2 linked regions of the Homo sapiens genome follow. Changing the gene in region 1 together with any one later gene gives a genetic interaction. Each region holds a gene or a part of one and is shown on either strand. Other genes may lie near its edges. The genes, in order: EHMT1 and SUV39H1.

Region 1 (3,813 bases):
TCGTACCAGCAGCGCATGCTGAGCTGGCCGCACATGCAGTTGCTGGAGGAGCAGTCGTCGATGCACACGCAGTACTGAGAAGAGAGGCGCCGGGGGGTCAGACGTGCAGGCACAGGCCTTCCATTTCCCCTCCCAGTCACAACTACGTCTTCCAGTTCTGTTAACCCTGATTCTGGTAAGTGCTTCTCAAAGGCACCACGTGAGTGTGTGGCCTCTTAGGGAGAAGGCTGTGCAGGCAGAAACATGTCGAGTGCCTGTGGGAGGGAGCTCTGGCTGAGGACCCTGACAGAGGGACAGGGGGCAGGCAGGGCAGCGACGCGGCAGTGGGTGACGTGGGGTGGGTGAAGGGCTGGGCGGCGGCTGCATTTGTGGCCAGATGCTCGATGGGAAAGGCAAGAACACAGAGCCTGACACACCTTGTGGGGCGGGGGGCGGGGGGGGGGGGGGGCCTGGGCAGTGCCCGGCCTGGGAAGAGGAGGGAGCTGCCCACAAGCAGAGCCACAAGGAAAGTGCTCGAGAAGGCGCAAGCAGTGAGGGCACCAGGCTGCATGCACTCGGAGGCTGGGAAAGCTGGCATGTGCTGGACCCATCTCTCCGGGGGCTGGGAGGTGCAGGGATCCAGGTCGTCCTGCAGGCCTCGCAAGGGCTCCTCTCGCCTGTGCCCCCAGCACGAAGCCACACCGGGGCCCCTGAGTGTGAGGTTACAAAAAAGGCACAAAGATGCCTGCCACTGCTTTGGGTCGGTAAGAAGCCTTGGAAGAGCAATGAGAGGGCCCAGGGCTGGGCCTGACAGAACCTTTATCTGCCTTCCAGCTCTTTCACGGGAGGCAACTACAAAGAGAATGAGGTCTTCCTGGGAAGCCCCCCATAAGCCCTCCTGCTCTGAGTGGTGAGAACCCAGGACCCCAGGCTCAAGAAGCTTCTGCCTGTCCCATGTCCTGGCCTGAGTCAGCCCTTCATCTGCCGTCACTCACCTGCAGATGAGTGATATTTCTGTCGATGTTCATGGGGGACGTCACGCAGTTCTGAGAGACGTACTTGTAGTTGCTGGGGCATGGCTCGCTGTCCACGGCGTTGACACAGGGGATGGGGATGCGCTCGTAGCCTCGAGCGATGTCCCTGCCATGGAAAGGACAGGTGTCACCTGGTGGCTGACGTGCTCTGCCCAGGGGGTGGCACAGCGTGCAGTGGGGCGGCTGGCAAACACCTGGCCCTGACAATTTGGACTGCAGCCTGGGGATGTTTCGGCTTCAGGAGCAGCTTTCACCGCAAGTTCCCAAAGCCCTGCTGACCGCTGATTTGCCACAAAGCCGTCCTGGGGCTGGGCTCACCTGCTCACTATCCTCTCCACGGGGCTGGGCCTGTCGGGGGCCGAGTCCTGCAGAGCCTTGCTCATCTGCAGAGCGCTCCACACCTGAGAGTTGAGGCTCGCACACTGCAGGGGCGTCTCTCCTTCCTTGTTCTTTAAGGTGACATCTGAATCCCGAGAAAGAAAGAGGCTAAAAGGGAAAATGTAAGGCCACAAAACATTTAAAGCTGACTTGAAAATGTGATACAGATGAGATTTATAAAATGTCCGTCATCACTAACAATAAAGGGAACACTATTCACTGTGAGATAACTTGAACAAGTCTGCTCAGCAATGACTCTGCAAAGACGGGCTTTAGCTCACCCAGGAACATGATTCCCTTCCTCCTCTCCCACATTCACTGTCAAAGTCAGCAGGCTGTTTTCTTAGCAGGAAGAGTGTAAAATCCAGGGCGGCATTTGATTTTTCTTGGATTTTTCATTCAAATTTACCCTCAAGGATAAGAAGGGAAGCAAGGAGGGAGAGAGGCCAAGCTTGGGCCACGCACAGCGTGAGCAGTCCTCAGTTCCACTCCTGCTCACTGCATCCAGACTGCAGTCATCGTACGTGGAGCTGGGCTTCACACAACCAGATGACCAACCTGGCTGAGCCACCGTGAGATCCACATGTGGGAGGGCACAGCCCCATGTGTAGGGGCCAGGGAGTCACTGGAGGCTGGTGCCTGGAGCACCCACAGTTCCCTGTCCTTCCCCAGCAGCCAAACACACACTCCATCCCAGGCCACCAACAACAACCTGAGTGTGGATGACTTTATGGGATCAAGGTCTCAAGCTTTTTTTGTTTTTTGGGTTTTTTTTGAGACAGAATCTCACTCTGTCGCCCAGGTTGGAGTGTAGCGTCGCAATCTCCACTCACTGCAATCTCTTGCCTCCTGGGTTCAAGCGATTCGCCTGCCTCAGCCTCTGGAGTAGCTGGGGTTACAGGCACATGCCACCATGGCCGGCTAATTTTTGTATTTTAGTAGAGATGGGGTTTCACCATGTTGGCCAGGCTAGTCTCAAACTCCTGACCTCAGGTGATCTGCCTGCCTCAGCCTCCCAAAGTGCTGGGATTACAGGCGTGAGCCACCACCACCCAGCTGAAGGTCTCAAGTTTTAAAAGGGCCCTGAGTGGCGAGTGCCACAGCCCCCAGCAACTCCAGCCCTGGCTGTGGGTGGCACTGCTCCCAGAAGGCACCCTGAGCCTCTCGGGGACTCTGAGCTGGCAGGTCCCTGCTGGGAGCAGGGCTGTTCCCATGCTGCCCCTCAGCCATGTGAGGAGTATCAGGTCTGAGACTCCAACTTGGGAATTTTTTCATGACAATCCTCCCTAACCCAGAAATAAACCACAGCTGATCTCAAACGTGGACTGGGAAAGACACTTCTCTGCGTGTGGAACACCAAGGATGGACTTCCACACGAAGGAACAGAGGGCCTGTGTCCACTCACGCCCCAAGTGTGAACACAAGACTGTCAAGCGGTCTCTCTGGGCGCCCAGGTCAGGTCAGCGCCAGCCCGCGCTGGGGGAAGCACTGCACTCACACGACACAGTCGTAGCGGTTCTCCCGGGCGGCAATGTGCAGTGGCGAGTCTCCGTGGATGTTCACGGCGTGGAGGTCGCACTTGGCAGCCAGCAGGATCTCGGCTATGTCCACGCAGCCGGAGAACGCCGCCCAGTGCAGGCAAATGTTCTCCTCCTGAACAGACACAAGCCAGAGCTCAGTGCAGGCTTCCTGCTGGCTCACAGTGCTGGGGCTGGGCCACAGCAGCTGCAGCCCATGTGCCCGGGGAGAGGCTCTGGAGCATGCGTGGCCGTCCGCAGCAGGGCCAGGTGGAAAGGGTGCCACAGGTCACCGGATGGGAACCTAGCGCCCATCTCAACTCTGGAAGGCACTTCGTTTCATGTTTTGTTTGTTTCATTGTAAAAATAACATAATTATAAAAGTAGCATAATCACAGTAAAGAATAAAAATAGGGAAAAGGTCATCCAGAATTATATCAACCTACACTCAACATATTAACACTTGGAGGCACTTTTCTTTCATGTATTTTTAAAAATTATATTCATTTCCAAGCAGGGGTATAGTCATAGGATAGGATAATGCTTTTGAAAGATTTGAAAAAAGGACGTGCAAATTTGATTAAATTAAAATTTTGGGCCGGGCATGGTGGCTCACGCCTGTAATCCCAGCATTTTGGGAGGCAAAGGCAGGTAGATCACCTGAGGTCAGGAGTTCGAGACCAGCCTGGCCAACATGGTGAAACCCCGTTTCTACTAAAAATACAAAAAATGAGCCGGGCGTGGTGGTGGGCACCTGTAATCCCAGCTACTTGCGAGGCTGAGGCAGGAGAATTGCTTGAACCCGGGAGGCAGAGGGTTACAGTGAGCCGAGAACGTGCCACTGCACTCCAGCCTAGGCAACAAGAGCGAAACTCTGTCTCAAAAAAAAAAACAAAAAATTTTAC
Region 2 (3,096 bases), on another chromosome or scaffold:
AAGTCCAGTCAAAACCAGTTACGGCCAGTCTAAACCAGTCAATTTAATTGCATTGTTTTGAGACAGGGTTTGGCTCTTTTCTGGAGACAGACAGGCTGGAGTGCAGTGGTGAGATCTCAGCTCACTGCAACCTCCACCTCCCAGGCTCAAGCAATCTTCCCACCTCAGGCTCCTGAGTAGCTGGGACTACAGGTACAGGCACATGCCCCCACACCTGGCCAATTTTTGTATTTTTAGCAGAGACGTGGTTTCACCATGTTGCCCATGCTGGTCTCGAATTCCTGAGCTCAAGCGATCTGCCTGCCTCGGCCTCCCAAAGTGCTGGGATTAAAGATGTGAGCCACCACACCCAGCCTTAAGTGCATTTTAAAGTTTAAGTATAAAACAAACTTATTTTAGGTCAAGATGTTATATAGATGATGGTGTAAGTGATATGCTGTGGGGGCTGAAATTGTGAGGATTAGAGTCAAATGGCTGAGGTTTGAGGAACATGTTCCTGGGCAAACCCAGCTCCCAGCCTCTATCCCCTCAACCCCCACCCACACAAGCACCTCACATCTTGGTTTGTTCAGTCGACAGTTCATTTTATTGATGCCCACTCCAGGCTGCATAGGGTTGAGGGGTGTACAAGAGGAGAACCAGATTCAGTCCATGCCTGGAGGTTAGTCTGGGGGGCCGGCGGGATGGACACACAGACAGACACATAGATCTGGCATCTGATAGCAGGGCATACAGTCTCATGTAGGGGCACTCTGGGCACAGGTAGTCAGGAAGGACTTCCTAGAGAAGTCCTCACAGGGGGTGGGGGAGCAAGGAGCAAGGCAGCCATCAGAACCTTCGCCTTTTGTACATTTGTAGGCAGGTGACTTTTGAGACCAGTGGAACCAGGGTGAGCACAAAGGGCTGGGGTCTGGGAATGGCAGGCAGCAAGGGCTTCCCTCTCGCCTCGTCATCCCATAGTGGGGAAGCCATCTCCCCCACCCCCAATTCTTGGCCTGTACTTTGCCTTCTGCCACATGGGCCCTTTCCTGGCATCCACCTCCGTGGTTTTCAAGGCTTCCCTGAGACAATCCACGTGGACCAGGTGCTCTACCCAGTGCCTGGCACCTCATCACCACCCCATCAATGCACATTCTTGTCCTAAGTGCTATCTACGGACTATCTAGATCTTGGTTCCAGCTCTGAGTGGTGTCAGCGGTCATGACACCCCAGGTCAGGGCCCCTAGCAACCGCAGAGCTCCCAAGAGCCCTAGGTACCTTCACTGCACTGTGAAGGCAGAGCTTGGTCCCAGCCTACCTCCAGGGCTGGCCAGCTCTGCACTGCCTTCCTCTCACTGCTCAGTGGCCCATGGACACCCACTTCCCTTCCAGTGGCATGTGGGCATCCACTTCTCAGATATGCAGCCCTGAAGAAGAGACCCTACAGCTCTTAGGGCCAACACTACCCAGCACTGTAAGCACGAGCAGAAACCAGCCTCAGCCCGTAGCCCAGGGACCCCCTTTCTTTCACTAGTACAAAGTTTCTGTGGTTGGGGAACCAGCTTCATGTCGGGCTAGGCACTCTGGCCTCTGATGTCTGCCTGCTCTGGGGTTGCTTCCCCATACCTTTGGGGCAGCAGGGAGGAGGCCTGCAGCAGACCCCTCAATCTCCAGGCAGAAGCAGGTGCAAAAACAAATATATTCTGGGGCTGGGTTGGGACTCACCCCTTGGACCTCCTTAATAGGCCATGAATCCCAACGACAGAGAGTCTTGATGTTGAAAAACTATTTCTGAAGGTGGGTGGGGGTTTGTAAGTGCAACCCACAGATGGGGCTGGGACAGGGAAAGGGGACTCCTGGAGTCGGTCCTCACCACGGCCACAGCCCTGAACGTAGAGCAGGTAGGAGCAGGTGGGGGCAGGTGGAGGCAGGCGAGGCCCTGGCAGTCATTCTCGACAGGAGGGCAGCAGTGGGGGAGGTGCATGTAGCTTCAGGCCCCCTCAGTCAGTCTGGCCTCAGACTTCTAAGGGCTAGAAGAGGTATTTGCGGCAGGACTCAGTCCCACACTTGCATTCAATACGGACCCGCTTCTTAGGGGAGCCAGGGAGCCCAGCCAGGCCAAAGTTGGAGTCCATGCGGGTGCTCTCCATGTCCACGGGGTCCACTGTGGAGTCACAGCCAGGGAGGAGAGGAGGGAAGGAGGCAGGGAGGGAGGGGGAGAAGGAGGGAGGGAGGAAGGTAGGGAAGGAGGCAGGGGACTTGTTAGAAGGCCTGGATGAAGGGTCCCACTACCCTTTATACCATGAGACCAAGGATCTTTGGGGCTGGGAGCAACTCTGGGATTTGAGTTGGGAGATCTTAGGGTTGGTGGTTTGGGGCTAGGGCCAGGGCTCAGCACTGGAGGTTGTTCAGGCCAGGGGTTGAAGAATGCTGGGGGAGGCAGGGAGCCGTCAAGGAACCAGGAGGGTCGTTTTAGGTGTGTGGGGGGGGGCAGGGGCAGGAATAGAGGGCCACCTGGGCATCCAGAGGTACATCTGAACTCTCCTGCCAAAGACCTGCCCTTGAGGGTCTCAGAGGTGGCTAGCTTATCAAGGAGGGGACTGGCTGGAGGCCACAAGGGTGTCCAGAGGCTTGGGATGAAGAAGGCCAAAGGGAGCTAGGAGTGGGGAGGGGCTGGGGGATGAGGGAAACTCAGTCAAGACTGGAGTCAGGAGTTTCTTAACTCTCCAGGAATCTTGGGAGAAGTTGGTATGAATGCCTCAGGGTTAGGGTTCAGGGGCTGGGAATGAGGGGACTCGAGGGGTAGGCAGGGGTCTAGTAGTCCGAATGGGGGACTGGGAGTCAGGAAGAGCATCTTAAAGCTCCCGCTAAAGAATTTTCCTTGGTTCTCTGAGTGACTGGTGTGCCTTTGGGAGGGGTCCTTGTGTCCCAAGTCACAGTGCGCCCCTGCCCCCAGTCCCTTGCCACCCCCACCTTGCATGTTGTAATCAAAGGTGAGCTCCTCGCCTGCCCGGATGGTTCTTGTGGCAAAGAAAGCGATGCGGGGCAGCCGCTCGTCAAGGTTGTCTATGAAGACGTTGTACACCTGCAGGTTGGGGTCACACTGGGCGAGAAAGA

Evidence for each region.
Region 2: changes in EHMT1 (region 1) and SUV39H1 together harm fitness more than expected from each alone (negative genetic interaction), as found in Homo sapiens cells (one large-scale study listed by BioGRID).

Annotation. Positions count from the first base shown.
Region 1 is NC_000009.12:137,810,692-137,814,504, reverse strand, and holds part of EHMT1 (histone-lysine N-methyltransferase EHMT1), read right to left. Parts: intron 3,045-3,813; coding exon 2,890-3,044; intron 1,500-2,889; coding exon 1,332-1,499; intron 1,120-1,331; coding exon 975-1,119; intron 75-974; coding exon 1-74. UniProt on the Homo sapiens protein: Histone methyltransferase that specifically mono- and dimethylates 'Lys-9' of histone H3 (H3K9me1 and H3K9me2, respectively) in euchromatin.
Region 2 is NC_000023.11:48,706,484-48,709,579, reverse strand, and holds the end of SUV39H1 (histone-lysine N-methyltransferase SUV39H1), read right to left. Parts: intron 3,083-3,096; coding exon 2,953-3,082; intron 2,144-2,952; coding exon 2,010-2,143; 3' UTR 564-2,009; downstream 1-563. UniProt on the Homo sapiens protein: Histone methyltransferase that specifically trimethylates 'Lys-9' of histone H3 using monomethylated H3 'Lys-9' as substrate. Also weakly methylates histone H1 (in vitro).